Linked DNA regions of Homo sapiens: regions 2, 3, 4 and 5 are each linked to region 1. The links come from fine-mapping of genetic effects on gene expression. A gene starts in region 1. Each other region holds a variant in brackets. All regions are shown on one strand. Distances are from middle to middle. Region 1 holds the start of SLC38A1 (solute carrier family 38 member 1). Region 2 overlaps SLC38A1 (solute carrier family 38 member 1). Region 3 has its middle 130 kb from the start of SLC38A1. Region 4 overlaps SLC38A1 (solute carrier family 38 member 1). Region 5 overlaps SLC38A1 (solute carrier family 38 member 1).

What was found. PIP is the estimated chance that this variant, and not a neighbour inherited with it, causes the effect.
Region 2: its variant is fine-mapped to the expression of SLC38A1 in whole blood (TOPMed, PIP above 0.99).
Region 3: its variant is fine-mapped to the expression of SLC38A1 in whole blood (INTERVAL, PIP 0.99).
Region 4: its variant is fine-mapped to the expression of SLC38A1 in whole blood (INTERVAL, PIP 0.97).
Region 5: its variant is fine-mapped to the expression of SLC38A1 in monocytes after LPS (Fairfax 2014, PIP 0.94).

Annotation. Positions count from the first base shown.
Region 1 is chr12:46,266,014-46,272,723 of GRCh38, reverse strand. SLC38A1 (solute carrier family 38 member 1) reads left to right here and starts at 3,681. Exons shown (of 17, transcript NM_030674.4): 1 at 3,681-4,198. LOC105378248 (a long non-coding RNA gene) reads right to left here and starts at 3,653. Exons shown (of 2, transcript XR_001749101.1): 1 at 3,566-3,653. RefSeq lists silencers at 3,132-3,231, 3,312-3,491 and enhancers at 3,902-4,001, 4,052-4,101, 3,241-4,223, 4,222-4,281, 5,207-6,190.
Region 2 is chr12:46,207,619-46,214,328 of GRCh38, reverse strand. It overlaps SLC38A1 (solute carrier family 38 member 1), which reads left to right. Exons shown (of 17, transcript NM_030674.4): 6 at 5,202-5,275; 7 at 6,708-6,710. Among named protein-coding and RNA genes, the nearest start is that of SLC38A1, 58 kb to the left of the region's middle. RefSeq lists an enhancer at 6,326-6,415. The variant A/G (reference allele first, on the strand shown) is at 2,873.
Region 3 is chr12:46,136,129-46,142,006 of GRCh38, reverse strand. No RefSeq gene overlaps it. Among named protein-coding and RNA genes, the nearest start is that of SLC38A1, 130 kb to the left of the region's middle. The variant T/C (reference allele first, on the strand shown) is at 2,860.
Region 4 is chr12:46,179,631-46,186,340 of GRCh38, reverse strand. It overlaps SLC38A1 (solute carrier family 38 member 1), which reads left to right. Exons shown (of 17, transcript NM_030674.4): 17 at 1-3,278. Among named protein-coding and RNA genes, the nearest start is that of SLC38A1, 86 kb to the left of the region's middle. The variant C/T (reference allele first, on the strand shown) is at 3,053.
Region 5 is chr12:46,198,557-46,205,266 of GRCh38, reverse strand. SLC38A1 (solute carrier family 38 member 1) reads left to right here. Exons shown (of 17, transcript NM_030674.4): 10 at 677-735; 11 at 850-966; 12 at 2,178-2,257; 13 at 4,069-4,169; 14 at 6,524-6,642. Among named protein-coding and RNA genes, the nearest start is that of SLC38A1, 67 kb to the left of the region's middle. The variant G/A (reference allele first, on the strand shown) is at 3,366.

The DNA of each region.
Region 1 (6,710 bases):
GCAACAACTGCCCCTGACACAGTGCTACCCACCAAGGAATGTTAGGGCACACAGTGCCATGTATCTGCAGAAGGCTGACCAACACAATTTGGGAGCTCTTTTAATTGCAAATGCGCTTTTTCCTATGGCTGCTTTACTAATTTCTAGTGTCAAAATATTGTCATCTATGGATGAGATTCAAAGAACATCAAGGATGATAAAAAGGGTTAATCAGGCAAAGAAATGTGAAAGTCAAGGAAAACCAGTAATCTTAAAGACCATTTGTTGTTTAGGGTAGACCCTATAAATAGGAACAAAAGACTGCAGAATAAACAATTTATTTTCTAGTGAGATTGGATTTGTTCATCTAACAGCTGCAGTGTTTTCTGTTACAAGTAGGAGATATGCAGGACACTTGTTCTGAGATAATCTCACCAGCTGACTTTCCTACTTTTTCATCATCGTTAAAAATCAGATTTTCCACTGATAGTCCTTCACAGATTTTTAAAAAACACTGTATTCAGAAAATAGTTTTGATCTTATTACCCAAAAATTCTTATACAAGAAGACTGCTGGTATCAAACCAGATGTATTTGGAAAGCTTTGAACACCAGTGCAGGAAAACACATATTCTCTGTAAGCGCACAGCTGGTAGTGGCCCCTTCTGCAGCTGTCCTACTGGGCAACCCAGGTAGGGAGCAAGTGCAACCCGGGTGAGTACAGGGTGAAGCTGGGATGAGAGCAGATGTGGCTTAAGCTCAGGCTGAATCCTCTTTGGGGTATAATTGATTTTTCTTCACAAAGCTGCCCCACCTTCCTGGAACCATACAAAAACAAGCTATGGGGGCTACAAGAAAACTCTCAGGTGACCTAAAGCTACCCAATTCTATTTTCATAGTACAAATTCCTTCCCTGGCATCACTTTCAGAGCAGATACAGAATTTTCTCAGTTCCATAGGGCAGTCTGCAGTCAAACCTGGTAATGTGTCCTGAATACCTTAATAACATTGGAAATCTGTTCAAATGGGAAAGGTCCACAAATAACATTAGATACTATCGACAAGTCTCTTGGACCTCACAACCCTATTACTGAGAAAACTAACTCCCTGGACTCTACTGAAATAGGGCAGTGGTTCCTATTCAGAGACAGAGTGGCCCGAGACCCCTTCCACCCACTAACCCTCCAAAGATGGTTATTCCAGAATCAGGGAACGTTTTAGATCCAGCCACAGAAAACTGGCTTACCAGTCAGCTCTGGATGCAAGATTTGGATGTGCCACTTAGGGCTGTGTGGACTTGGGATAAATTCCCTAACCTTTGAGTCAGGGATTAGGATAGGCTGCCCTATCAGGAATGTCATGAGAATTAAACGAGAGACCATCTGTGAAGTGTTTAACCTGCTGTTTGTCTCTCAGTAAGCACACAGTGAATAGAGGAATCATCTAGACATCCCTGGCCTCAATTTGAGAAAACAGCAGCCTCCATGTTGATGTTTACTCTGGTTCTAGGTTGTCAACTAAAATCCAGAGAAGGGGTGAAGATCCTTCTAACTCTAGGCCCAAGAATGTCTGATTGCAAATGGTTGTAGCACCACTGTGAAGACTGAGCACGGATTTTGAATTCAGACCTGAAAGGGAATCGCTTCCCCTTCACTAATTACTGTCTTAGGTGAACATGGCCAATTCAACTTTGTACTTGTTTTCTTAAAGAGGATAATACCCAACTGAGGGATTGAAAGCTTTAAATGAGATATTTACATGTAAAGTCCTTAGCACAATAGCTGCCATATCATAGGAGCTCAGTTCATAACTGTTGATTCCAATTCAAAAAGTGCTAAATAACTGCAGTCGTTTTGATATACAGAAACTAGCAAGTAAGTTAAAATTGGAACCAAAAGACAAGCTTGGTTCAGATAATCTCCAAACAGCGATGAATACACATTCTGCCTTTAATAAGGTAAATATTCCAACAGGCCTATTAAGCTATGGCTCACAGTTCATCTACTTTACCTATTCAGATTTCTTACCTTATTGATAAGAATTATTTGTGCCAGGCAAGGTGCACACTACTTAAAATCATTAATTTCACAATAAATTAGCTTCCTCTAGTAAGGTAGAAAGAACCAACTTTTTGATGACCTATAGAATATTGCTATGTTGTGTGTACTCTTCTCCCCTTTTTCACAAATTTAGAAAACAGGATTAGGACAAAAGTAAAGCAGATGAGGGAAGCAGTAAGTGTCAGAGGAAGAAATTGAATGCAGGTCTGTCTGAGCTAGGCTGCCCATGTGTTTGCCCTTTTGGTTTGCTCTGAACTTTCTGTTTTTCAGTATTTCTCAAGAGCATGCCTTCTAAATAGGATTCTCAGGAAGCCACTGTTGAACTAATAAAGGCCATTTACTGCCATTCGAAGGGAATAAGAAGTTTAGTCCGTGATGAGTTTCAAATTTGGTTATCATCTTGCTTTTCCAGTGGTGATGAAAAAGCAAAATTCACCCAAATACAATGACTACTGTCTACTTGAAACGCTCCAGGTAGTTAATTTTTGAATTATGATTCACCTTCCCTTTCCTGTTTTGATGAACCATGAACAGGAGACTGAACCTTCCCTATCAATAAAAAGCTCGCGTTTCCACCCTGCAAATTCGCGCTATGACAGTCTAATTGGCTGAGGCGCAGGTGGGATTTCCTGTCGCCATTTTAAGACACAACTCCTCTGCAAGCAAGTGCCCAGCCAGTGAAAGGGGGCTGTGTCTGAAACAAAGAGTAAGCGGGAAAAAAGGGAACCAGGCCCAGTTGCCCCTGCTCCCCTCCATGCCGCTCCCTCGTCCCCCGGACTTGGAGCGCCCCAGCTCCGTTAACCTGGACGCACCAGGTCCTTCGGTCGGGACCACGTGGGGTCTCCAGGCCCTCCAAGAGCTGGCCCCCGGCTCTTTGCGCCTAGGCCGGTGCTTTCTCGGTGCTCAGCAAATCCTTCTGGTTCACCTCACACCCAGTCCCCAAAGCAGAGCTCCACAGGGCAGATCTCAGGAAGGGCTGACCAGGTCTGCGGGTGCTGGATCCGGAAGAGGGGAGGTGCCTCCCGCTTCAGGTTAGGGACAAAGGGTTTTTAAAGGTGCCCGAGCTCCCCGCCGCCCCTGCCACTTCGGTCCCCTTCCCGCCAACCCGGGCCATCTGCAGGCTGTGCCCAGGGCCAGCCCTCCGCTCCAACGCTGCCCGTAGTCCCAGGCGCTGCCCGCGGCTCTCCGGGCTGCGCTCGGACCTGCCACTCCCGCGGCCATCCTCATGCTGCGCCCTTCCCACAATGCAACTCCCTCGCTCCTTCGGCCCCGGCGGGGCTCTGGCGTACCCAAAATGCAGGCCCCAGCGGAACGCACAGCCCTCCTGTCCTCCGCCGGTGCCCCTTTAGCCGCCCCACCCCCATCCCTAAGGGCTCTCATTCTCCAGCTGCAGCCGCAGCTGGGTTCCGAACACGCCGCCGGGCCCCGGGAGGGAGAGGGGCAGGTGCCAGGGCGGCGCGCAGCCTCTGCTCCCGGTGCCAGCTTCAGTGCGCCGGGCACACGCGCGCCCCGCAACCCCTCCCTCACCCTTTCCCCGTTGCTCAATCTCCGCCAGCCGCGGTCGCTGCATCGTCAGAGAGCTGCAAGAGGGAGGCAGCAAGGTGCGGCCGCCAGCAGTGACACCATGTGACCGGCACGGCTCACTGACACGCAGCTTTGGTTAAAGAGCGGGCGCACAGGAGGGGAGGAGACCGCGCGCGGGACGGGGAGGAATGGCCTGTCCGCGTTAAACCATCACAAGCCATGGTTGCGGAAGGGCCACGCGTCCCCCAGTAGGAGAATGACTCCGATTCGTGACCCTCAGCGCCGGTGCATGTCGATGTAAGTGCGAGGCCGGCGAGCAGAGTGTGAGTGGGGGTTGGTGGTGAGGGGAGATTCTGATGCAATCGGCCCGGAAAGGAGGAGAGCCAGGCGAGCGCGGACTGGGGCGGCCACGCCACTCCGCCAGAAGGTCGCCAGGAGCCTCCGCCCTTCACCTTCCTCCGAAATCCGCCAGGCCACGCCAAGCTCCCTGCCCAACCCTTACTGACGGGGGCCACATTTTCCCGGCCTCCGCAGCCAGACCTTGACACAAAGGACATCAAACTGCCGAGGGTAAAAACCCCGGAAGGGCGGACACCTCCACATCGCCTTTTGCCACCTTTCCCTTTATTTCCGGAGGTAAGGTGATTATCCGTTCCCGGGGAGGGCTGGGCGAGCGGCAAGGGGAGATTTAGATGTCGGAGGAGGAGGTAACGTAGAAATCATCTCTGCGGGCGTGAAAGCAGAGAGAGCTCGGCTGTGCCCGATGCTTTCGGATGTTGCTTTTAGGAGAGGAAAAGTCCAGGTCTCCTGTGCTTCCCGAACGCACGCGGCAGCGGGAGGAAGCGCCAGGGCCCCCGAGTTCACCTTTGCGTGGGCTGTGGCTTACTTTTTGGTTTGTTTTCCTGTGACTTTGGTGTGTTTTCCTGTGGCTGTGGCAGAGTGTGGTACCAGATCTGGTTCCATTTTTACGAGAGCCAGGAACCACGCACGTCTGGAGGGAGAGCGCAGCTGACCCGAGGGCGCGACCGTGTTCTGGGAGTGTTTGAATCCCCGGCCTTTGGTGAAAATTTCCTGTGTCCGCAAGGCCCAGAGGAGATCGTGTGATGTCCGGGGGGTGCTGCGTGCGGCCGGCTGGGTAGCGGCCGCGGACCACCACTAAACCGGGGCATGTTTGCCGTCCTTCCTGGTGCTCTGCCCCTCTGTAACGCGGGGAAGTAGGAGGGCGCGGGGAGAAATTACTAAAGGATGCTTGCAGTGACTCACTGTCCTTTCCTGCCCTGAAGAGGATTTTCTAAAATGCAGAGGGTGGCAGGGGACAGAGGTAGTGTTTTTTCGAGAGCCGGGATGTGCTGGAGCCAGCGAACAAAAGGCCACCTCTTGCGCGGTCTTGGGCGCAGACTGCTCTCGCTTCCAGTCCCACCTCCTCCCCAACCCCCGGCACCTAGTTCGCGTCCCTAAACGTTGCCGCAGAGGCCTTTAAACGCGTGGGTCGGTGCCGGGAGGAGAGCGCATCTTCGCCCTTGTGCGAGCCCCTTGCCCCCTAAATTATCCACCTCCTGGCGCATGGGGCTCCCCAGCACCCACTGGGACCCAGTAGGTTACCCGGCTGCCTGGGCACCGTTTGCCTGCCAAATCGCCCGCCTGAGGTTTGTGCTGAACTGTAGTTAGAGAAGGCACAAGTGCATATGGCAGCAAAAGGAATTTCGCGGTACCCGCGTCACGCCGCTCCCAGTGCCTTTCACAGGCTGCCTTGGGCTGGGGAAGGTGGTGCTACAATTCAGAGTCCTTTGTCTTGCTCTGCGGCGCGGACCCGGGGTTTGTACAAACCCTCGTTCTCTGTTAGAAACCTAACTGCCGCCAGGATCACGTACTTTCTCGGACGAATCCGCGGTGATGTGTGTAGCAAAAGTGAAAAAAGACGCCTCTGCTAGAAAACGGTATTTATTTGCGTTTGGAAGGGGTTTTGACCTCTCTGCAGTGGGTTTTTACATTTTTCAATATAAGGGGGAGGAGGAAAATAAATTTATGGTTTGCAGAATGCAGGGCCCAGCGAGGGTGTAATTTGTCACCTTGATAAAAGAAACTGTGCAGCAACTCGTGCTTTTTCTGACGTCAGAAGGACAACGGAAATAAAACCTGAGCTCGGTGCATGGCTGGCCTCGTTGTCAAATGTCTCATGCCAATTTGGTACTCCCGAAATCTTGCAAAACAGCCAATTCCGGGGTACTGACCTGGTGTGGACCCCCTGGATTTTGGTTCGACCCCAGCCTCAAAATGGCCTTTCTCTTGAGAGTCACTCGATTTCTCAGTATGTCGCTGTAAGCAATTGGAAACTGGAATAGTTTGGTTTGAGGTCTTAATCTTGAGGTTTATTCGCTTTTTAAAAAAATGTGGCCAATAAACATTTTCTACAGAGGGCTTACTGTGCGACTGGCAGCAACTAACAAGATTTGTTTCACCTTCTATGAAGCTTCCGTTCTCAGGGGGAAATAGACTATATAAATGTAGGCATATACATTTCAGGTATTCTTAGTGCAATGAAGAAATAAAACAGGATCATGTGATGGGGGAGGATGCTTGAAATAGAGTGACTCACCGGGAGGGGCGGTGTGAGGGTATAACATTTGTCCTCAGACCCGAATGATGAAAAGGGATCAGCTATTTCCATAATTGAGGGAAGAAGGCCAGCGGAAGGAACAGGAAGAAGGAACAGCAAGTACTTATTGCACTCTTCTTTGACTGTAATATAATTGAACAGATAGATGAATAGATTTTAAAGGTGTTTTGGAGCTTTAAACCTATATGTATGTTGTTTATGTATATTTTTTATGATGCTTCATGAATTAAGGCCATTTAATGAAAGGAGCACCATGTTTCTGATATCTGACTATTGCTACTCTTTTCTTTACTCTGGGTGATGCTTGTGGACAAAAACCGATTTTACTCATTGTTCCTCTAATGTCCAGCACATAGTACCTGCTTAATAAATACTTGTTGGATCGAGACCTTGAGACCTTGATCAGGCCATCTTGTTCATCTCTTTGTGATATTATTGGCCATCCCTTCCGTTCTATATCTCATCTGTTCCCCTTCTCCTAAGTTTGAAAATGAGAGTCTTTTTCTTCTCTGCTTCTCCTTCTCGTACTGC
Region 2 (6,710 bases), 58 kb after region 1:
AAAAGAGTAAATATATCTAGGACCACTGTGACAAATCTTTTTCATTTTTTCTTTTTTTGCTCATGCCACTTTGTCTAAGATACTCTCAGGAATCTGTTTAAAAATCATGGAAAGCAAGAGTATCCCCAGAGGATTAGAAATAGGCTAATTTAATCCCAACTTTCAAAAATGGCAAAAAGTAGATGCCAAGGAATAGTGTAGAGAAAATTATTAAACAGCTTGTTTATGTGCAATGACTGCAGAAAAGATTACTCTGTAGAAACCAACAAAGTTTTTCTAAATAGTCACTAAACTAATATCATCTTTTGAGATACAGTGAGCTAAGTAGATCATGGGACTATCTTCATAGAGGGAGTCTTGATTTTAGTTAAGATATTTGGCATAGTCTCACATAACTTGCCAATGAGGTTCTAATGTTTCTAAATTCACTGATTCTCAGCGAAGACTCTGTTATGTGTGTGTTTGATGTTGAAGGTAAATAGGTAAATAGTTGAATTAAACTGTCGTTGTCTGTCTTACAGTCTAGTGATGGAGACACATAATAAAGCAATAAAATAAAAAGATTACTCTGGCTGCTGGGTGGAAGACGGATGTGAGGAGACAAGATGATCACAGTTATCCAGAAATTAAGGACGATGGCTCACACTAGAGTGGAGATGGGAACAAAATGCCTATGGATTTGGGATAAATTTTGGAGATAGAAATGATAGGGCACTTGCCAATGAACTAGATATAAAGGATGAGGGAATGGGTGAGAGATAAGGTCGACTTCCAGGCTTCAAGCAGTTGGCTGGACAATGGGCCATTTCCAGATGGTCTTGTTCTATTCAAGGTTGATGCCAGTGACTTGGATGAAGGTACACTTAAGATATGAAGTTAGATGCAGTGGTTGATATATAAGTAAAAAGGATCAACAATTTAAGAAGAGATCATGAGACTTGAAAGATAAAATGTAATGTAAATAAATATAGGACTGGCACTTAGCTTCAGAAACAGACAAAAAAAGTACACAAGATAGAATCAGGAAGACAGCCTAGTAGCATTCACACCAGAAGCTCAAAAAGAATGAAAAGTGTGTGGTTGCCGTAAAAATGAATTCCAAAATAGATTACCTTGAAAGAAGAAAGATGTCTGACTCAGAGAAATTAAAAATCCTATCATGCTTTGCGCTGTTTGGACCAAATCTGATGTTATAGCATTGTGTTCATCTCAGCACACAGCCTTTAAAAAGGATGGTTGAGGAACTGGACCATGACTGAGATGTAAACAGCCCAAACACTTCATCACAAGATGAACAGTTCAAAGAATTAAAGATGTTTGAGTTAAAGAGCACAATCTTAAAATGAGCACCCTCAGGACTGTTAGGTAGGAGAGGTGTTAGATTTCAAGTAGATACAAATAGGTCCAGAAGGTAAAATGAGGACCCAAGGATAGAAGTAGCGACAGTGATTTCAGCTGAGCCTCAGTTCCAAGCACAGAACTTTTCAGAAACAGAATGGGTTGCATAATATGTCCCCTTTTAAAAGACACTTTGCAGACCTGGATGCCTGTGTGTTGGCATGGAGCATAGAGGTTTCCTGTCCTGGGTAAACATGCTGTGCTGGACTAGGTTCTCTCTGAAAGTCTCTCCCTGCTTCAGGAGTCTAGAATTCTAAGTTTCTTCTCAGGAGACTCCAAAATTTACTAGAATGTCCTGAACCACATCTTTCATAATGTTGCTGACTCAAAGACTCTTGAAGGCTCCTGACCACATTATTCGCAATTCTAACTCTCTTGCCACCCCTTCCCCATGACCCATGTACAATTACATGCTCTAGATCTTCTCCTCAAAGATGAACATAAGTCTGAAATATCAACACCTTGGCAGCCCTATTATCAATTGCTGATCTGTAGTCCCCATGTAAGTACGCCTTTTTTAGCAACCAGTTTTTGTCCCAGCCATATTAATACTTGTGGTCAGTGGTTAACAATGTTGAAGCTTAAATTATATCCAGATGAAATTTTAAAAAGGAATCACTTGTGTTCCTCTGTGTTAACACAGGAATCCCAGCATGTGTTTCTCTTCCAGGAAACCATAATTATATGTACAAATATCTACCCGGACAATTAGGGGCATAATCATGCTCTAAATAGAAGTGTTCAAACAAGTCAACACCTTCTCTCCAGTTATTCCTCTTTCTTCTTTCTCTTAGATGTCATGGTTTCTGTGTCTCAAGACATTTATGATTTGATTTTTCTAACCCTTTCTAGGTTCTATTAGAGTCAATTAGACAACATATTCCTTCTTTCTAAGAATCTGAACAAGGAGGTATACTTTTCTAAATTTTAATCCTATTAATGCCAGATTCTTGTATAGGCTAAAGTATTCTTAGAATTTTACTTTTACAGTTTGCCTCTTAGTGATCTGATAGAAAAGGGGGTTTTGCTTTATATTAATTTTCAGTCTTGGAAGAGAAGATCTACATTTGGGAAAGGACTAAGAAGAGATCCTTTGCAGATCAGACAGTTAAAGGCAAAAACTATCAGACTCTAAGTACTCTGGGGTGCAATGTTACGTCTCTTAAACATGGGAGGGGGTTGTTTTCACCACTGTGGGAGCACCTCATTCTGTTGTGTTTAAGTGGGGGGAAGAAGATAAGTGAACACTACTAAAATCTTCCCTAATCAACACTTTTCTCCGGCTTGAAAAGGGGGGATAGCAGTTTATGATGCTCAAAGGGCCAGATGCCACTGAGCATCATCTGCAAAGAGATTCAACACATAGATTGTGTTAAGACACAACCATGTGCAAGAACCGCGTGGTTGCAGAGGCTACTGACTGAGGGAACACAGCAAATGTTTCCTTAGAATGTTTCTTTTGCTAATAAATACC[A/G]AGTTCTCCAGGGTTAGGGCCTTTTGTAAATAATTGTGTAGATATTCATAATTATCCCCTCCTGCTAGGCACATAGATAGTTCCTACAAGGTCATACTCTTTATACATTAGCCTTGGGCCCATGGGAAAATCCCTTTGGTCCTAGCAGAGTAGACCCAACAGGGCACATAGTCATTCCAGAATAGCATCTGGCTCATCCTAAGATGTCACTCATTTTACTCCACTAGGAAGCCTGTGCTCTTCTGTGCCACACGGAAATCCTCTAGGGCCTGTCACATGTTCGTGTAGAAGTGGCTACTTAGCATTGTGTCCCTCAAAACAAGTGAACTCTGCAAGAAACCGAAAGCTTGCTTCTTTGACATAAATATTGCTTATCTTACTTGACGGGAAAAAAAATCATGCCACAATTAGGTCCCATATCTTATTCTGTGGCAGAGCATATCAAATCCTGTTCCATTACGTATCTCAGAACTACTGGGTTGGCTAATAAATGCTTGCTGTCCGTTTCTCACATCCCTCAACCTGAAGAGATAAGAGACCTACCCTCTTAATCAGTGTATTAGTCCATTTTCATGCTCCTGATAAAGACATTCCTGAGACTGGGTAATTTATAAAGAAAAAGAGGTTTAACAGACTCACAGTTCCACGTGGCTGGGGAGGCCTCACAATTATGGCGGAAGGCGAACAACACATTTTACTTGCCCGCAGACAAGAGAGAATTGAGAGACAAGTGAAAGGGGTTTCCCCTTATAAAAAAACCATCAGATCTTATGAGACTTATTCACTACCACAAGAACAGTATGAGAGAACTGCCCCCATGATTCAATTATCTCCCACCGGGTCCCTCCCAAAACACGTGGAAATTATGGGAGTTACAATTCAAGGTGAGATTTCGGTGGGGACACAGCCAAACCATATCAATCAGCCTCCTCACTCAAGGATTTTAGGGAAATAAGTATAGATCTGAATGTACTTCCTTACCAATCATATCTTAACCTAAATTCCTGTTTATTGGCAGATCAGTTGGGCCTCTACCCAAAGTGTTAGGTCTGTTCTTTCTCCTAGTGTTTGTTTTGCCTCTGCTGAGCTCTGCCCCTCTTTTGTTTGCTGGCCAGTTTCTGGCAGTTCATCTGTTCTGCTGTTGACCATTCTGTACTCCTGGTTTATCTCCTCATGGTTGCCCCGTATGCAGGAGAAACAAAACACTGTAGGATCATAGACAGCTGAGGAGCAGTCATTCTGCCTGGGGCCAGGGAAGGCAACTGAGGAGTTGGCATCTGAGCTGGGGCCTAGAGCAGCCTTCAACAGGTGTGCTGGGAGGGGGAAGGGCCAGGAGGAAGCAGCCCACGCAGAGCGAACGGCATGATGTGCCAAGTGCCTCTCAACAGCACTTGGTGGAAAAATAATTGCCTTTCATGACTCAAACATAGAGTCAATTGCAGTTATGTATTGTTCTAGGGATATATTTTCCCACATCAGGAAGTGAGCGGTTTCATCTGGGGACTGGATTTTTTTTCTTCTTTTTTAATAAATAGGCTTTATTTTCAATTATCATGTCTGTTTTAACCAAATGTTTCAGAAATCATCTATATAATCTCCCACATCATTTTAACTGCACTTTTTCTTGAGAAGGGTGTGATAATGACCCAGATGTACTAAAACAAAAACATGAGTTCATCATTCAAAAAAGTCTTTTCATTATACTTGATTGTCAAATTTTCCCACTGGTTACCAAGTGGTGCTTATTCATCTAAGAGGAACCAGGTGCAAAAAAAGTGAATTACATTAGTAGCCCAATATATAGATTTTAAAATAGCCATGAAGTAATAGATGAAAAGAACCCTAGACATCATTTGGCTTGTATCTTTATATTATGGGCAAGGAATCCAGAGATGGGAATGTTAAGCAAGTTGCCCAAAGTCAGGTGGTCATTCTCCTAAGGTCACTGCCAGCCTTTCCCTCCGCCCCTCCCACCCCATTCTCACACTTTCTCACCCGGATGTAACAGAGAGTGCAACATAGACTACAAAAGCCTTCTTTCATAATGTTGTTTTAAAGTCATCTCAACCGAAATGCTCCCAGAGAGCTATTTGGGCTTCGAATTACATAAAGGATTTGAACTGTTACTCAGATTCTAATGAGCACTTCTTTATTTGGTAGGACATTTTTGTTGAGGATTTTAAAGCAGGGATGACTAATAGGTTCCAAAATTTGGATACTATTAACAAATAGTGTTAACCATACAAATAAACCTTTGCCCTTCTAAACTGTAATGCCAGAATATATTCTTTTCTAGATATTACAATAAGATTTATTTTCTTTGCTTTAGGGTACTTTTGACTTCAGTGACATTGCTGTCTATATATTCAATAAACCTCCTATTGATCTGTTCAAAAGAAACAGGTAAGCTGAGGACGTGTTTGATTTTGTTAAAACCAGGGTGAATTATTTTTATGGTAGCATTGTGGAACAATGATGTTCTCTCTGTACAGCAATTTGATTATTAAAAAGAAAGACTATTTTGACCTAGAGTGATTGGAAGACCTATAGTAGTATTTATCTAGAGAAACAGTTGCAGCAAAATATAAATTAAATTGTCATGGACAATGAGAAAATAATGTTGTCACTTAAAGTGAACCCTCAATTATACCTGTTTTTCTGGTTTAAAATGACTTCATTTTAAAAGCTTGTTTTTCCTTAGGTCTTTATAAATCCAGAACAAAGATCCCATGTTTTTATATTATAACTTCCAAGGTTTTAAAAGTAAACAGACCTGTCATTCTCTTGTGCATATTCCAAGGAGAAAGTGTTACTCCTGAGGCAATGTGGGAGTGAGCAAGCTATGAAGAGACTTCAAGTACTCTGGGCAGTGTAATACCTGAAGTGTTTATTTTCTATTTCTGGGACACTGGATTATGTTTGTAATTCTTTGACTTTTACATTAACTAAAACCACATTGGTCAACTATTATTGTATATACATGACTCCATTTAACTGGAACATTTTATAATAAATTGAGGAGCTAACCATTGTCTAGTTTAAACACCAGTCTTATGAGAGATTAAACAAAGGTTTAATTATAGCCTGTCCCATATTGCTCTCCGTGAACCTTTTGAAAACATGAACTGAACAGTTATAAAGAAATATAAACACTTTTTAAAAAGTGAATGCTTTAGAGTTTCAGTATTTATTGAGATGAGCTAGTCGAACACTTTCAAATTTTGCTACAGACAAATTATGCTTTTGACAGATTAGTCTTCTGCTCTCTTTTGTGAGTTGCATGTATTTGAACTACATTTTATGAATAATTAGGTTTTGTATGTCGTGGCTATTAAAATGTTTCTAAGCTTGTTATTACATTTAGAACGTGGAGGCATTGATGGGATGTTATTAAGATAATTCCTTGTTTGCCTAATCAGTTCAGGTCATTAATTCAAAAGGAATCTTTTTGTTTCAACTATTAGGATCTTTTTAAATCAAATATGTATTTTAATGGTGTACACCAGACCTGAAGAAAAAGATCACAGAAGGAATTTCCCCTTTGTAAGATAGAGGTAGTTAAAAATAAGCCTTATGACCTAATAGGTTAATTGTAATGCTCTGGTAGCCAACTTGAAAAAGGAGAAATGATGGTTGCATCTCACATTTTAAAATGTTAAGAATTTGTTTTGTAATGAGGATACCTTAACCCCTGAAGGCCAAAATGACTATTTGTGTGAGTTTGAGAAAGGCACATAGTAACTTGGGGAACAGTCAATAGAATGACAAAATCTTGACTATTTTAACTTTCTGAACCCTGTCATTTCTTGTGTTCTCAAATTTGATTTTTAAATAGGCT
Region 3 (5,878 bases), 130 kb after region 1:
AGTCAAATTATCTGAAGGCACAGAACTCAATGTAATAATAAGTACTCAGAAAAACACAGAATATCATCACATTCTAATTGTGGTATGTAAACTACTCATATCTTGAGTGGAAAGACAAAAAATGAACCAATAAAAAATAATAACTACACAACTTTTCAAGACATAGACAGTACAATAATATATAAATAGAAACAACAAAAGTTAAAAAGCAGAGTAATAAAGTGTAGAAATTTTATTAGTTTTTTTGCTTGTTTGTTTATGCAATCAGTGTTATCATCTGTTTAAAATAATAAGTTATAAGATATTATTTCCAAGCTCCCTGGTAACCTCAAATCAAAAAACATAAAACAGATAAACAAAAAAATAAAAAGCAGGAAATCAAAACATACCACCAGAGAAAGGAAGACAGGAAGAAAAGAAGGAAGAGAAGGCCAGAAATCAGCCAGAAAATAAATAACAAAATGGCAGGAATAAGTCCTAACTTATCAATAATATAATGTAATTATAATGAAAATGGACTAAAATCTCCAATTAAAAGTTATAGACTGGCTGAATGGGTTAAAAAAAACAACTCCTAATGATCTGTTGCATACAAAAAATGCACTTCATATATATAATCTGGAAATAAAGGGATGAAGAAAAGATAGTCCATGCAAATGGAAACCAAAAAAAAAAGAGCAGGAGTAGCTATGCTTGTATCACACAAAATAGATTTCAAGACAAAAACTGAAGAAACAGACAAAGAAGGTTATTATATAATGATGAAGGTATCAATGTAGCAAGAGTATATAAAATTGTAAGTATATATACACTCAACATTGAAGCACCTAGATATATAAAGCAAATATTATTAGAGTTAAACAGAGAGATAATCTTCGATACAATACTAGCTGGAGACTTTAACACCCCACTTTCAGCATTGGACAGATCATCCAGACAGAAAATCAACAAACATTGGACTTTATGTGTGCTATAGACCAAATGGACCTAATAGATATTAACAGAATATTTTATCCAAGGGCTGCAGAATACACATTTTTCTCCTGAGCACCTAGATCATTCTCAAGGATAGACCATATGTTGGGTCACAAAACAAGTCTTAAAACATTCAAAAAACCTTGATATAATATCAGGCATCTTCTTTGATTACAATGGAATAAAACTAGAAATCAATAACAAGAGAAATTCTGGAAACTATACAAACACATGGAAATTAAACAATATGATCTTTATTACCACTGGGTCAATTAAGAAATTAGGAAAGAAATTGAAGGACAAAAACCATATGATCTTTTCAGTTGATGCTGAAAAATCATTTGATAAAATTCAACATCCCTTCATGTAAAATTCCTCAAAAAACTGTGTATAGAAGTAATATACCTCAACATAATAAAAGCCATATATTACAGACCCACAGTAGTATCACACTGCATGGGGAAAAGCTGAAAGCCCTTCCTCTAAGATCTGGAACAAGACAAAAATACCCACTCTCACCATTGTTATTCAACATAGTACTGGAAGTCCTGGCTAGGGCAATCAGACAAGAGAAAGAAGTAAAGGGCATCAAAATTTGAAGGTAGAAGTTAAATTATCTTTGTTTGCAGAGGATATGATCTTATATTTCAAAAAACCTAAATACTCCACCAAAAAACTGTTAGACCTGAATCAGTAAAGTTGCAGGATACAAAGTCAACATACAAAAATCAGTAGCATTTCTATATGCCAACAATGAACAATCTGAAAAATAAATCAAGAAAGTAATCCCATTTTCAATGCTACAAATAAATTCAAATAACAGGAATGAACATAGAAGTGAAAGATCTCTGCAATTAAAACTGTAAAACACTGATGATAGAAAGTGAAGAGGACACCAAAAAATGGAAACATATTCCACGTTCATGGATTGGAAGAATCAATATTGTTAAAATGTTCATACTAACCAAAGCAATCTACAGATTCAATGCAATCCCTGTTAAAATACTAATGACATTGTTCACAGAAATAGAAAAAAAATCTTAAAATGTATATGAAATCACAAAAGACCCAGAATAGCCAAAGCTATCATGAGCAAAAAGAACAAAATTGGAGTAATCACATTACTTGACTTCAAATTATACTACAGAGGTATTGTAATCAAGACAGCATGGTACTGGCATAAAAACAGACATGGAACAGAATACAGAACCTAGAAACAAATCCACACATTTACAGTGAACTCATTTTCAACAAAGGTGCCAAGAACATACATTGGAGAAAAGACAGTCTCTTTAATAAACGGTGTTGGGAAAACTGGATATCCATATGCAGAAGAATGAAACTAGACCCCTATCTCTTGCCATATACAAAAATCAAACCCCAATAGATGAAAGACTTAAATCTAAGACATCAAACTGTAAACTACCAAAAGAAGACATTGGGAAAACTCTCCAGGACATTGGTCTGGGCAAAGATTTGTTTAGTAATACACCACAAGCACAGGCAACCAAAGTAAAAATGGACAGATGGGATTGCATCAAGCTAAAAAGTTTCTGCATCGCAAAGGAAACAATCAACAAAGTAAAGAGACAGCCCACAGAATGGGAGAAAATATTTGCAAACTATCCGTCTGGCAAGGGATTAATAACCAGAATCCATAAGGAGCTCAAACAACTCTAAAGAAACAAAATATAATAATCCAATTATAAAATGGGCAAAAGATCTGAACAGACATTTCTCAAAAGAAGACATACAATGGCAAACAGGTATATGAAAAAGTGTTCAACGTCATTGATCATGAGAGAAATGCAAATCAAAACCAAAATGAGGTATCATCTCACCCCATTTAAAATGGCTTTTATCTAAAAGACAGCAAATAACAAA[T/C]GCTGTCAAAGATGTGGAGAAAAGGGAACCCTTGTACACCATTGGTGGGAATGTAAAATAGCACAACCACTATGGAAAACAGTTTAGAGTGTCCTCAAAAAACTAAAAGTAGAGCTACTATATGATCCAGCAATTCCACTGCTAGGTATATACTCAAAAGAAAGAAACTTGGTACATCAGACAGATATCTGCACTCTCATGTTTACTGCAGCACTATTCACCATAGCCAAGATTTGGAAGCAACCTAAGTGTCCACCAACAGATGAACTGGTAAAGGAAATATGGTACACACACAATGGAGTACTATTCAGCCGTAAAAAAGAATGAGATCCTGTCATTTGCAACAACATAGATGAAACTGGAGATCATTATGTTAAGTGAAATAAGCCAGGCACAGAAAGACAAACTTCATATATTCTCACTTATTTGTGGGAGCTAAAAATTAAAGCAATTGAACACATAAATATAGAAAGGAGAATGATGATTACCAGAGCTGATAAGGATAATGGGGGAATGGGAAGTGGGGATGGTTAATGTGTACAAAAAAGTAGATAGAATGAATATGATCTAGTATTTGATAGCAGAACAGAGTGACTATAGTCAACGATAATTTATTATACATTTTACCATAAATAAAAGGGTAGAATTGGACTCTTTGGAACAGAAAGAAAGGATAAATGCTTGAGGTGATGGATACCCCATTTACCCTGATATAATCGTTACACATTGTGTGCCTGTATCAAAATACCTCATGTACCACATAAATACATATACTTACTATATACCCACAAAAGTTAAAAATTAAAAACTTTATTTAATAAAATTGTAGGTTTTCAATAGTCTGTCATCTTTGTATTGTCTGTGAAATGTCAATGTTCTAGTCAGAGCCCTTCCTACAAATGATTTTTCAAGTGAAGAAGACAGAGAGTCAAAGGAGGGTTAAGTTTAAAAAAGTAGAGTGTTCAAGGAGTCTGGAGAAGAAAGAGCATTACAGTGTGAGGAGACATCTGTGATTGTTGACTATAAGTGACCAACATGCAACTTTAATGCAAGTCATATGCAAACCAGAGTCTATTATTCCCAGTAAACAGCCTATTTAGGTGCTTTCTGTAACAGGACTGTTTCAGCATAACAGCCTTAGTAATCATAGTCTCTGCCAAAACTGTGGCCAATGTAATACTTTTTCAGTGGGACCTGGGGAATGATACATTATTTAAAATGAAGTCCATCAAACAAGCGAAAGACAAAATGCATTGATTTAAGTGATGTGTGGACTGGAGCCTGTGAACAGGGCAGGCAGTTCACACCAAAGCTGAGGTGCCCTGGTACTGTTGATTTGGGGGCCACACACGCAGGGTAACAAGCCTCCTCACAATGGTGTGACAGTGTTTCCTCACCCGAGTGCACACAGAGATGGGAGCACAGCAGTGACTACCCTGTCCCTGGCCTCCTGCTGGATTTGCCAACAATGGTAACACTTGGTACCAGCTGGAAGGCCCTGAGATGCTGAGAAGGGACCACCGCATTTCCTGTGGATGGGAAAATAATCTGCAGATGTCATTGGCCAATCACCACCAACCTAGACTGGATTTCAACATAATCTAGAGACCCCCTAAATCAGCCTTTCAAAGAGTGATACTTCTTACATAACGGCCATTCTTTGAACAGCATGTTTATTAAACAAATCTAATGTAAAGATCTGTTTCTCATTTGGCCTGATTGGACCTTCAGGAAAAGCCAGAGGATACATAAAGGCCTGAAATTATCTTAGGGCCCAAAAGAAAATACTCAACCTGCTTTGTACAAGGGATAATGTATCATAATTACAATTAAGAAAAATTTTAGACGATGCATTCTTTTAAACATTTCCACATGAAACTGGAAAATGAAGACAAAACTTTATTATGCTGTGGCTTGACAAAGAAAGAGTGGTTCTGTGTCTCTGCAGGGCTGCTGGATTAACAACCCCAACAGAACTGATGTCAATGCTTGTAAGCAGCTACCCAATTCAGCTAAACACTAAGTCATTTCAATCAAATGCTTTATCTGATTATCTCTTTTCAATGAATTAACTGATTGCTTGATGAAAATGCTCAAAAGGGTCTGATATTTTACTCTTGGGAGATATAAGAGTCTTTATTAACAGTTTTTTTTAACTGCTTGGCATATCTTTAAGGTATGTCTTTAGATAAAATATACTACCATGACCACCACCACTTCTCATAAAAGAATTCAAAAACTTTGCCACAATTTTACAATTGTTCAATTCAACAGCATTATGGAGCTAAATGCCTGGCACTGTAGGATCAACATCTGATTTAAGTAAATGATAAGAAAGGGAATTAAAATAAAATATATTGCAGGGAAAACCATTCCCTTCCACAATTCAACATTTTTTATAGTGACACATAAAATAGAAGCTTTTGCCTTTTCTGGGTGTTGGAAAGAAGAGCTTTTTCTTTCCCTCCCATCCCTGTCATCATACCTGCCCAAGAGAAATGAAATGACCTACTCAATTAATGAACTGGGATTATGAGGCATGAACTGGGGGTACAGAGCACAGCCTCTGTGGGGTGCAGGGCACAGCCTCTGTCTCTCTGTATCTTTCAGTCCCTGTCATTCAGAATGGCCTGAACCAGAACAAACACATTCTCTGCTCCAACATGCAGGAAGTGGCCTTCCCCTGGGAGGGAGATTCAGCATGCGAAGGTCCAGCCCTGCCAGTGTCCACATGGGTGAACTCTGTTCAGGGACAAGAAATCAGGAAGCTTGTCTAGCCACAGATAGATGTTGTGATGTCTAATCACGTTTATTAGTAACTGAGATATTGATCTTCTATCTTTCAGTTTATTCCCAACTCAGAAGGGTGAGGGCATTATTTATTGCCTCTCCCAGAGAATCTAACACATTTATACTCTAATGGTCTATTTGACCATTTAATATGTTGTTTCCTCATTTGACTTTCTAAATTTGGCACATTAATCCTGAATACAGGAATAGGAAAACCTTGTATGTCTAT
Region 4 (6,710 bases), 86 kb after region 1:
TGAACAGTGCCAGTTCCACACTTTGGACTTAGAACTGTTCTCTAGTTATTGTAACACAGAATACTGTCAATCCCTAATTTACTTAATGTTACTTATTGGAAGTGGGGCTGATGAAATACGCACAGGAGGGAAATCTACTGTGTTTAGGCACAGGCAGCCCCAGTGTATAAGGAGATCATATTCCAAAAGGTTGTCAGTTGGTTGTTTGCAACCTGGAATGTATTTTCCTTTAGAGACCAGGTTATCCATGGTGGTTAGGCCCCTAGAGCAGCTGGAAAAGATGATCAAACCAATAGGTTAGCTGACATCGAATAATGTAATAGGTTTGCTAAAGAATCTAACCATCAAATATAATATTGTTTCCAGGGAGGGTGTTTGTTCAGAGTTGCCTGTTAGTAGAATCTGGACTGTCCATCCCAGCCACATCCCACCTACTGGACAGTAGGGGTAGAGATGCCACCAGACTACAGGTGACCAGATTGGCCTGAAACATGGTGTCCAGTAAAAACGGGGAGGAATAAGTCCATGACTGCTGGAGAGCTTGGTGGTAGGAGGAGGGTGAAGGAGGGTGAGGGGGCCTCTCATGGGTCAGAAACCTCCAGGGACATCCCTCAGCTGGTAACTCTGCTGTTGTCCGGAGGGTTCAGGCTTGGTGTGCCTTCTTCTGTTTGTCTGACTTTTGGCTCCTATGGTTCATCTCCTGCCCTGCCCACCACAGAAAAGGATGCTGCTGCATAGCTTCTCCAATGTACCAGTCATTGAGGCCAGCGCGCAGCACTTTTAATGTTTTTAGTGCTAGTAACTGTGTTTTAACTCTCCAGGAATAAGCTGGGAGGTTAGAAAACAAGAAAAAAGGGGGAAAAAAAAACCTCTCCACCCACTTTCCTTTTTTACAGTTACAGACCCTGTTGAGAAAAAGAAGCACCCAGATGGGTGATGGTGATAGGGCTTGTGGTGGACACAGGGTTGTGGTAAGATTCCTCAGTGCTTCGGCGAGCACCTAAGACTATTACCCTGGAACTGACTGCTTTCTAGAGCTTGATTCATGCCTCTAAGCCAGTGGTTCTCAAAGTGTGGCCCCTAGACCAGTAGCATCAGCATCATCGGGGACCTCATTAGAATGCAGATTCTCAGCCCCCTCCCAGACATGGTGAAGTCAGAAGCTCTCAGGGAGGGACTCAGCAAATGATTCTAAAGCGCATCAAGTTTGAGAACCACCCTAAGCCAATGAGTCTCCCTTTTACTTCCCATTAGTCCTCCCTCACCAGATGATTCCTAGGACTCATGGTGCAACATACAGGAGCCAGGCTTTAGGGAGGGGAGGAAAGGAGCCTGGCGGCAGGGGTCTCTGCAATGGCAAGAAAGTGAGTGAATCCAGCGCTGCCACCTGGTTATCCCCTTCTCGTTGAAAATAGCAGCGCAGGTGCAAATTCCTAAACACAGGCTGCCTGCACTCGGTGTTACCTCGGGCTGAGGCATGATAATATTTTATTTTTTAAAGCTGTGAGGAAATGAAAGTGAGGCTTTGGTTGGGGCGAGGCAGTTGTGAAAGAAATTAAAATAAAAGACCCTTTGTAAATGCAGACTTAGAAGAAATACTGAATTTGTGTCAGAAGTTCTCCAGTGTTTGTGTTAATCGTGTGGTGATAATCCTGTCCTCCTTTTAAAGCGAATTCTCTACTGAAAGGTCTGCTCTGCTTAAGGAGCTACAAACTGCTCTCAAAAGAATGAAATACTGAGTTCCAATTCAGTGAGGCACAGTGTTGGACTATGGCACATTTAGTTGGAGTCGGGGGGAGGTCAGGAATATGATCAGATAATGGATTTTATACCTTAGAGCAAAATCTATTAGTCTCTCTCAGTTTATCAATTTAAATGGCTTTAGGCTTATAGGGGGTGTAAACTTTAAGAATATAATTCTCCCATTCAAGTTTACAGCAAACATCTAGCCACCTTCAAAACAAAGAATATACAGACCATCATTTAGCAATACTAATACATGATTTTCCTTGGGGATGGCAGGTTTGAGAATCCTTTAGCAACAGGACATACTTCCCCTAAATTACAGTGAATTATTTATAACGAGATAAAGCTTTCAGGTACAAGCTGAAGGTGGGGTGTCTAACAACTAAAAACTATCACTAAATCTCAAAGAGAAAGTTCTTGCAAAATATGTAAAGTTCACAAGGTGCAGACATTTTCCTTCTTTAGGCTTTTATCTAAGGAAGGGCTATGAAACTGGGCCCATCTGTATACAGGCTCAAATTTACGTTTTTAAAGGAAGAATCTATGCAGCTGAGGCTTATTGCAGGAAATACTTCATTTGTATGTAAATATTATTGTAAATAAATAGGAGGCTGTATATTTTTGAAGTTGTTGATCTGCACTGAAATAGAAGTCTCTAGGATCTGCATATAAACAATAAATGTTTCCTAGAAATTAGTGGTTTTGTTTGGGAATTAGAAAAATTTACATTCTCTCCCAGGTAACATAGTTCTCTCAATGTAAACTTGGAACCTGAAACCCTACTTAATTTAGAGAAAGAAATGTCTGAGAAATAGTTCCCTTGATTTCTTATGCTGGCATTAAGATCAATTATTTAACAGATAGTCCTCTGAGATACAAGTAAGGAATATTTAGACACAAATCCTTGTCCTATAGAAACAGATATACCCAAATGACAAATTGTTTCTTCATAATGATCTTCCATTTTTAACACTGATACCACTACACAGTACATATGAAAACAGAAGCTGGGGAGAAGAATGTTTTTTTCACAATTGAATTGCTGCATTTCTCAAACTTTGGGATCTATGAAAGCGGGGAGAGGGAACCTGAATATTAATTATGAGCACAAATTTGAAGGAAAGAAAACAAAGAACCATTATCTAATCAAGCTTTGAAAGTCCTGCATGTTTGCCTTTTATTTTAGTGTTGACGCCAACATAGACTGTCTAAGGTATTTTTTTCCCCAAACACTTGAATCTTGGTCGTTGGTATGTAATCCACTCTCTAGAGTCCAGTGTACTTTAGACTTCATCTGAGTCCAATA[C/T]ATGTACCACACTACTGTTTTATTAATGTAAAAACCTTGTAAATGAATTTCAGATGGGTGATTTAAGTGAGTCACAAGTCACAAAACTTTGCTATTCATAGTTAATCAAATAGAACTGGGTTTTTTTTTTCAGAGTGTGGTGTAAATAAAGAAATATAAGAAGTTCTGTTCTATAACTGCTCTGTTAACATAGTTTTTAAACATTAAAAAATGTGAACTAAAAGTATTTAAAAATGTTGTGTTTGTTCTTTTGCAATGCAATACTAAAATGGGGCAGTTGTGTACTATATACACTATTCAGGATTGCTGGAGAAGGGTTATACATATTTGTCAGTGTTCTAGATCATAGAAGGTTATATATTTAAGCACCCTAACGTAAATATTTTTAAAAATACTTCTGATAGAAATCTATCTGGTCTGAAACATATACCACATTTCTCCATTCTTCATAATCAGAGTAGATTCACCATAATATTTTCTTTTTTAAGTCAAGTTTACCTTTATAAGTATTAATTTCTGCCCTGTGTTGTAGGAAGGAGTTGAGTCTTCCTCTACCCACATTGCTGCCACCTATAAAAGAAGAAATTCTATCAACACTTCATTTCTCAGTAACTATTGGGTCAAAGCTAGTGCAGCCTTGTCTTTTTATCCATCACCAACTCCTCTCCAGCATCTTAGAAAGGCTTTACCAGACCAGCAAGATGGCCAAAGTCTGATATCCAAGTTCTTCTTGTGGACAGGGCTAGCACAGGAATAGCCTGGGTCTTTTACGGTGTGGCTGGGAATGAAGACCCCCTTGATGAACTCTTCTGGCCTACCCAGGTGACAGCAGTGCATTCTGTAGGGCCTCGGTGGCACACACGCAAAACTCAAAGTAGAAACCTGGGGTACGGGAGTCCAAGTCATGTTCTCCAATATAACTTCGTTAGGAATAAAGCTGATATTTTTATCCTTACATGCTTCCTATGCCTACTTCTTAATTGATCAAAACCCCAAGGGCAAAGGGTGTGAGTGAGTAATTAGCACTTTTAAACTCAAGCAGTGGTAAAAGTTAAAAGACTATTGAGAATCTGAGCAGATTTTGTTCCAAATTGAAAGGGCCAGTCCTGCAGTGCCTTTGATAGTTCTGGCTTCTTCCTTCTACTCTCCCTCCATGAGTATTTGCTAATACTGTTCCATTCCGTCCTTTTTTACACAGAATTGTCAGGGAAGAGCTATTCTCTGCCTTTCCCATGGAATTAACTATGGGCTTGTATTAGGGCTCTCCAGAGGGACAGAATTAATAGGATATATGTATATATGAAAGAGAGTTTATTAGGGAGAGTTGGCTCACATGATCACAAGGCGAAGTCTCACAATAGGCCGTCTGCAAACTGGGGAAGAAAGAAGCCAGTAGTGGCTCAGTCCGAGTCCAAAAGCCTCAAAAGTAGGTAAGCTGACAGTGCAGCCTTCAGTCTGTGGCCAAAGGCCAGAGAGCCCCCAACAAACCCCTGGTGTAAGTCCCAGAGTCCAAAAGCCAAAGAACCTAGAGTCTGATGTCCAAAGGCAGGAGGAATAGAAGGAAGCACCCAGCATGGGAGAAAGATGAACACCAGAAGACTCAGCAAGCCAGCTTAGCCCGTCTTCTTCCACCTGCTTTGTTCTAGCCATGCTGGCAGCTTATTGGATGGTGCCCACCCCCATTGAGGATGGGTCTTCCTCTCCCAGTCCACTGACTCAAATGTCAATCTCCTCTGGCAACCCCCTTGCAGATGCACCCAGAAACAATACTTTACCAGCTATCTAGGCATCCTTCAGTCCAATCAAGTTGACACCTAATATTAACCATCACGGGGCTTAATGATAACTTTGCAACTCAGATGTCCTGTTTTCTTACTTTCTAGATTTATAATTGTGTTCTACCTAGTTTGGAAAGGGTGGATGAGGCCCAAATAACTAGGCCAATTTTTGAATATCAATTTTTAAAAATCTTTTATTAGTTTACATGTTAGGCTAATCCAAGTTGGTAGAATAATCTGCTCATTGGGAGAGTCAGTACACCACCAAAATAACCTGACAAATTACCCAAATTATATAAAGCCATAGCACTTAGAATTGAACTGGGTACAAATAAATAAATAGATCATAATAGTGAATGCATAAATGATCCAAAAAATACCAGAAAGGTGGCCTTTCAAATCAATGGGGAAAAATAAAGGTTACTTAATAAATGATAGGAAAAAATACATAGTTTTTGAAGAAAATGAAACCAGATTTCTATATTACCCCTTATGTCTAAAGAGAACTTAGATATATTAAAGACTTTAAATAACACATGTGTAAATATATCTATTTTTATAAGCATGAAACCATGACTTAAATAAAGTATGTGTCAAAAAATTTAGTTAGCTTATTAATTAAGGAACAAGTAATATGTTTAAAAATTGGTCCAAAGGAGAACTCAAAGAACAGATACATATATCAGCAATCAGGAATTCTAAAATGAATTTGCTAATAGATGCAAAACTGGCCTGTCCACAGGGGGAAATTAATTGCATCTTTTTTTTTAATGTACTTTAAGTTTTAGGGTACATGTGCACAATGTGCAGGTTAGTTACATATGTATACATGTGACATGCTGGTGCGCTGCACCCACTAACTCGTCATCTAATTAATTGCATCTTAATCAGACAGAATTATTTTGTATGTCTGGACAATAATCATTTCCATCTCTCAGTTTTCTACAATTTAGAGGGTTATAAAGTAGCTCAAAAAACAAAAAAAGGGGGTGCGAGGCAAAACTCTTATAGAATCAGATAACCCAGAAGCAGCATATAATATTTCGTTGAAAGTACACCCACCCAGTAATCTTTTTTGCTTCTTTTAAAGTCTTTCCAGTTTCCGTAACAACTTCCCCTTTGTGACTATAAAAATCTCAAAGATTATTCTTGGTCATAAAAAGAATGGTCCCATTAGCCTTGGCCTGATTATTTGCATGGGTGCGGCAAGGGTGTTAATTAACCACATAAGCTTCCTTGAATTTGGTTTGCAATTCTAGAGCTATGTACTATTGAACAGCTACTGGAGCCACAGAACTGCACTTTTAAAAGTCTCTATGGGTTGAGGGGGAAAAAGTCTCCATCATTTGCTAGCTCAGGGCTAGGAAAGCAAGCCCGAGAGACTCCACCGTATTCACCTATACCATCTATAGATTTGGATGAATTCCTTTCTACTTGAGGTCGCTTAAATTTACTAAGGTTCATGGCCTGCCAGGAAGTGCTCTTTGTCACCACCCATCATAATAGGATCCTATAGACCAGTTTAGGTACTAGGCTCTAGGTTACAACCCTAGAAGGTTGGTACTAAGCCAGGGTTTTGTAGGCATTGGCTACAGAAATAAAATTAACCTTTGTTCCTTGGAGTTGTTTGACATACCTGTTAAATGACCATCATCCTCACATATGATCTTCCAAGTAAGGCCATGGTGACATTCAATTTTGTCCAGTTATGCACCGGGAAAGAAAAAGACTCTTGTTGAACCTATGCAAATAACTACATTGCTGTCAAAAAGGTAACTCAGTCACAGTGTTTAAACTCGGGGTGGGGGAGAGTTCAGTGAAAAGCAGGAAGAAAATGTTTAGTTTTATTTTACAAAAGCAGAGTCTACTGAATTGTTGTA
Region 5 (6,710 bases), 67 kb after region 1:
TGTTTTCTGTACCTATAGAGGTAGCTCTTTTCAGTTAAGTAGAGAAAAGCTCTTCCCCTGGGTTGAAAATAATGCAGTCCCGAGAGGCTACTTAACTCTACCTTTCTGGAGGTCATGGTAGCAATTGGAGATCTCCCAGGCATTCTAAGGGGAGCTACTAAAGAGCCCCAGATACTCAATTTACCACTAGAAATTCGCTTCATCTACTCTCTGTCATCTGGGGAGAAAAGTATTATAACTGACATTCAGTATGCACACAATAAGTGCATAATAAAGAGCTATTGAGGGGATCAAGGAGTAAATGGGTTTGCCCATAGGACTCCATCAGGGTCCACCAACACAGACTTACAGCAAAAATTGGAAGGCTCTTTTCTGCTGGATTCTGGGAATCTGTGTTCTCTAGTGTGCCAGGGAGAGTTGGAATCAAAACACGTAATATAATGTTTCTATTCAGAGCCCCATTTTTTTGCCAAATAAAGTAGCACTGTCAAATAATAAATCTTGTATTCACTTGGGCATGTATGTTTATTATTGGATCTCTAAAATATGCTTCAAATAATGCACTGAAATAAGTGAGGTGATGAATTTTGAAATAATAACAGTTTATGATGGGTAGCTCCAAAATTTTTAAAAATGGAAAAAAATGAAATAATTTATTTTTTACTTTTTTTTAAAGGGTATCTTGGCTATACTAGTGGATTTTCCTTGAGCTGTATGGTTTTTTTCCTAATTGTGGTAAGTGCTGATTGCAATGGTTGGTTTGGTTTTGTGATAGTACAATGGCATGTAATAATTATTCATTGGCTTTACTAAAGTCCATATTGCTTCTACTATACTTCTTAATACCAGGTTATTTACAAGAAATTTCAAATTCCCTGCATTGTTCCAGAGCTAAATTCAACAATAAGTGCTAATTCAACAAATGCTGACACGTGTACGCCAAAATATGTTACCTTCAATTCAAAGGTAAGTTTCCTGATCCTTTGCAGATGAAACAAGCATTTTTATTAAGGACATTCTATTTCTCATGCTTGTAATTGCACTGGTTTGAATGTATTAGTTCTCAAAAGAACACATGATACCATTGCTTCCAGATTACACATCTATGTAGAGATCCTTGAGAAATATACAAATATTATATTTTACACTCTCTCTTACCATTAAGCATTCTCTGTGAAAATCCCATTCTGGATAATTGTCTCAGCTTTTTCTGTGTAGAGTGCTAGGTGATACTTCAAAAACAGACTAACAACATCCTTAGCTCCCTTCTTCTGGCGATGACAGAAAGGAATACTGCAGACTTCCTCAGGTTGCACAGTTGAAATATAGATGCCACCACAAACTGGCACTTAAAAAACTCTCATACTATTAAAATATTGTTGATACAATGGGAAACAGAGGATTATGGAGTCAGTCAGGCTTGGATTTGAATCCTCAGGCAAGTCACCCAACCCCTTGAGTAAAAATAAGTATTCTATTCTGTATCTTACAAGGTTTTGTTAGAATGTGCCTGGCATAGTGCATCAGCAGAGTTAGGGCATAAGATAGGTTAGTTTTCACTTCTTTTTGCATAGGAAGTTAGATTGAGTGTGAGAGTTTCAAAGAGCCTTATCTAAGAAAACTAAATAGATCGCGATCTTTCTCCTTCTCTCTGATTGTAAGGATATAGCCAAAGTAGTGCAATATGGAACAGATTTTCTTTTCAGAGGGTATCTTTTAAGTCCGATTCCATGCACCTGATGTAGAGCGAAGAGCAGTAAACTAGAGGTGGGAGTGCTGGGCCAGTCGCCTGACCTGTTGGAGGGAGCCAGGAGAACAGCCACAGTCTGCCTACTGCTTGGGATTGCTGTGGGGACCCAGCGAGCTATCCTAGGAAGAGTGCCATGTAACTGGCTCATGCTGTATAAACAGGGGGTGTTGTATACCTGGAGTATATAAAATACACCATAGGTGAGCCAAATCCGAAGTCCCTCTGTGACAAGTGGCTAATGGCTCGAGCTAGACAAGCTGTCTTAGAAAAGCTGCTTCTACTTTAGAGATCAAAACCTCCCTAATAACCGAATAATCCAGGGATTCTGAAGAGCTGTCAGATAAAAAGACAGCTCAGAAATACTGGAGCTATGTCCTTTTTATGGTAAAAGTGTTTTTCCTAATGTCTATTCTTTTCTCTCAAATAGACCGTGTATGCTTTACCCACCATTGCATTTGCATTTGTTTGCCACCCGTCAGTCCTGCCAATTTACAGTGAGCTTAAAGAGTAAGAAATTTGTTTAATTTTTTATCTTAATCGTTTTACATCCCCTCATTAATAGGCAAGTATGCAATTAAAATAAACGGACTTGTCTAATGAACGTCAGCGGATTCATCACCCAGCTTCAACATTTACTCACATTGTGCCATTCTTAAACAAGCATTGTATTTTAAGAAACAAGAAAGCAAGAAAAATCAGAAACTTGCAGTATTTTGGGGGGCCATAAACATAAAAAGTAGCCAACCATGTGGGCTTTTTCATTAATTTGGTTTTTCAAATATTGTATCACCGAGGAAAGTTTAAGTATTTGTGTTGCTTTCCATTACGTATGCGTATTTTGCAAGTGGGTGATAATCTTCAGATTTATCTGTAAACTGCTAAATACATCGTCTCTGATTTGCCTGTGGGTTTGGGTGAAAAGGCTAGTAAATCAGACAATAAGAAATCAATATTAAGACCACAAACTAGGAAAAGAGAATATTGCTGTTCATTTTTAACTATTAAGAAAATTCTATGGATTTATTGATTTATTTTTGATTGCTGGTTTTGAGAAAATTAAGGCCTGCTTATAAACTTCTTCATGTCTCTTTTTAGCCTATGGTTATCAAACATAAACAAAAATAGTCACAATAGCGTATCTTAAAAACTTAGAAAAGATCGACAATATCAGTATTTATTTCCAGTTTGAAACAAAGTTGATGTCATTTAGCATTGAATCCACTCATATATCTTTGGCGTCTTTTAATAGTTCAGCTTTTAGTTTTAGTTTTTAATTTTCTCAAGCGTATACTTCTCAATTTTTCTTTATTTATTTTTTTTTTTTTGAGACAGAGTCTCCCTCTGTCACCCAGGCTGTAGTGCTATGGTGTGATCTCAGCTCACTGCAGTCTCAACTTCCCAGGGTCAAGCAATCCTCCCACCTCAGCCTCTCAGGTAGCTGGAACTACAGGCACATGCCCCATGCCCAGCTAACTTTTGTATTTTCTGTAGACACAGAGTTTCACCATGTTGCCCAGGCTGGTCTTGAACTCCTGAGCTCAGGTGATCTGCCTGCCTCAGCCTCCCAAAGTGCTGGGATTATAGGCGTGAGCCACCGCGCGGGGCCTACTTCTCC[G/A]TTTTTCTTGTTTTCCATACTTCTATGGCATCCTAGATTCCTTGACATAACCAAATGTTATGACTATCTGTGGTCTGTTATTTATTGAATACAAGTGTTGCAGATTAATTGTTTGGGCAGTTAAAGAAACTTAGAGGGTCATCCCAACCCCAGAGTGAACTTGACCTGAGAGATGGAGCCCTTCATCATTCCAGCTGTGATCTCTTGGGCACTTGCTGCGCTGGAGACCTACAGACTTCCAGGTGCATCCCTGAGGCCACCCAATGGGAAAATCAGAACCTGAAACAGCAGCTTTAGAGACAGAACACCTGAGGTCAAGTTCCAGCTCTGCCACTAATCTCTGGAGCTAGGAGAACAGCATTGATTTTTTTCTGCCTTTTTTCCTTTGCCCAGCTAGTGTGGAGATAATATCAAGCACAAATATTAAAAAAATGCTGTCTGCCCTTCCGATGAGAACTCGATATTCTTTTAAAAGAATGGGGAAGAACGCTAACGGGAGTGTAGTTCCACAGATCTCACCCTCAATACCAATTCAGTATAAGAGAGGTTATTTTCAACTGGCATAACTGCCAGGGGTAATTTCAGCTGTTCAGATCTTCCCTAACCTGACAGAAGCAAAGTTAAATTAGTATTCTTCAATGTTAACACTGGTGCTTAAATTCAGTCATATGATTTTTAATTTTTAACATTTATTTGTTTTTAGCCGATCACAGAAAAAAATGCAGATGGTTTCAAACATCTCCTTTTTCGCCATGTTTGTTATGTACTTCTTGACTGCCATTTTTGGCTACTTGACATTCTATGGTAAGTAATTTCTACTGGTACATAAATATAAATATTTGTAAACAAATTAGTAAAAATTAGTGTTGAAATAACTTTTAACATGAAAGGCAAAGAAAGCAACAAAGCTATCCATTGGTTTTTCTAGTTTTTTCTTCGACTTAAAGCAATGGTGATCTTTTCATGTTCATGCAGACTGCCGAATAAAATAATTACTCAAACAATATTTATAATTTTTTTCTCCTAACAGTGTCCTTAATAGAAATTGCATTTTAGAAGCATGCTACCTTTACTGAGGAAGGTTTAAAACTACATCAGAGAAGGCTTTCCTAATTGACACCGCAAATTGGGTCAGATTCCATTAATAGAATGGAGAGACAGAGACAGATGCTGAAAGTGAGAAAGAGCAGAGTGCTACACTCATGACACTCTGAGTTAATTAAAAATGAAACTTCTAATTGTTCACTGGAAGTCGAAGCCTTGCAAAGATCCAAAGGAATGATAGAAAATTTTAAAAAATGAAATCTGAAAAAGGGAACAAGTTTTCATATGTAACTTTTACTGACCCTGAATGAACAGTTTACCGGCGTTTACTGCTTCTTCATCCTCTCCTATTCAAATTATCCTGAAGCTTGATTTAATATCTTTCATTATCTTTATAATTGGGGACCTAATTTAAATATATATATGTGTATATATATGTGTGTCTATATATATGTGTATATATATGTGTGTGTATATATATATATATGTATGTATTTCACAATCTTCTCTACTAAATAATAATTCTTTGGGACTTTTTTTCATAAACACAAATGTCTCAAAATTAAACACATTTAAAAAGTATTAATTCAGCCTGGAGAAAAAGGCTACTCTGATTATACAGATATTATTATTGTTTTCACTAGCAATAGAGAATGGCATTGTCTAATGAATTCATAAATACCACATTTAATTTTTACATAAAAATGGTGTTGCTAAGGTGCATACAGAGTTGTACAGGGAGAGAGAGGCGGAGAACTTAATGTTAGTTGAAGTCTCACTGTTGTCTTGTTGAAGCTATAATTTTTCTTTGTAGATGCATTATTTTTCACATAGAATAGAACACCAAACACTTTTATTACTCTTGGATTAAAGAAAAAGGATTAGCTATTTTTTAAGTGGTTAGTTATTTTGAATTAAGGAAATTAGAACTAGTGAGATTGGTATTATAACTTATGGTTCTTTTTTGGAAACTGAGACCAAGCTAAGCTCTATGGTACAGATTAGCATTTGAATTCCATGCTGAGGACCTTGAGACTGGTGCAGTGAGAGGCCCTTGCAGGAGACAGGAGGGGAAATTACCTCTTGTCAAAAGAGTGAGCAGTTCCATACTCTATGTGACTGCCATTCTAGCTTTGTTAGTCTTTGAAATAACACTTTCTGAAGTTCTGGATTGAGAAAAAGTTCAAAGTAGTACATAAGGCCAGGTACGGTGGCTTGCACCTGTGATCCCAGCATTTTGGGAGGCCAAGGTAGGTGGATAGCTTGAGCCCAGGAGTTCGAGACCAGCCTGGGCAACATAATGAGACCCCCATCTCTACAAAAAAAAAAAAAATACAAAAATTAGCCAAGCATGGTGGCACATGCCTGTAGTCCCAGCTACTCAGGAGGCTGAGGCAGGAGGATTGCTTGTGCCCATGAAGCAGAGGTTGCAGTGAGCCAAAATGGCACTATGGCAACCATATTCCAGCCTGGGTGATAGAGCAAAACCCTGTCTCAACACACACACACACACACACACACACACACACACACACACACACACACACACAAAGTAGTACATAAACTAATTTTTTTTTTTTTACAAGAACAACATACATGAAAGAGTGGAATTATTTCCTGATGGTGAAATTTCAACTAGTGTCTCTGCTGCTTGGCCACTTGAAGTTGACTTAACAAGAGAAGAGTTTGAAACAAGCTCCAAGGTGGCTTGTAGCTCTCCCCACCCCACCCCCTCCCTGAGCAAGCCTGTGGCAGTTTGGTGTGGTTTGAAGAGTGGAGGGAAAGTCTAGATTAAGAGCAGCTTCGCGTTTCAACTGTATGTTTCATTCTCGAGCCCAGTGTACTCCTAGGTTTAATTTAGTCTAAATTAAGCATTCCCACTCCATGTAGCTTCTTCCAGTGATTACTTTAAATTTCTTTGCTAAGTCGCGTATGCACAGTGGAGCATGTCTTACATAGAGATTTTTCTTTCCAACCTGATTGTTTTAATAGACATTTCGAAACATTGCTTTTCTTGCCCTTTAGTTTACAGATTCTTTGTTTTTCAGAAAAACTGTCATTCAGCTATATACTTTGTCTCCTTTTAAAACCCTCTTGCTTTTCCCTCATTTTAGACAACGTGCAGTCCGACCTCCTTCACAAATATCAGAGTAAAGATGACATTCTCATCCTGACAGTGCGGCTGGCTGTCATTGTTGCTGTGATCCTCACAGTGCCGGTGTTATTTTTCACGGTGAGTAAGGGCCTCTGTGCAATATGAGAAAAGCTGAGGTCTCGGCTTTCCTTCTGCCTGCAGGAGCC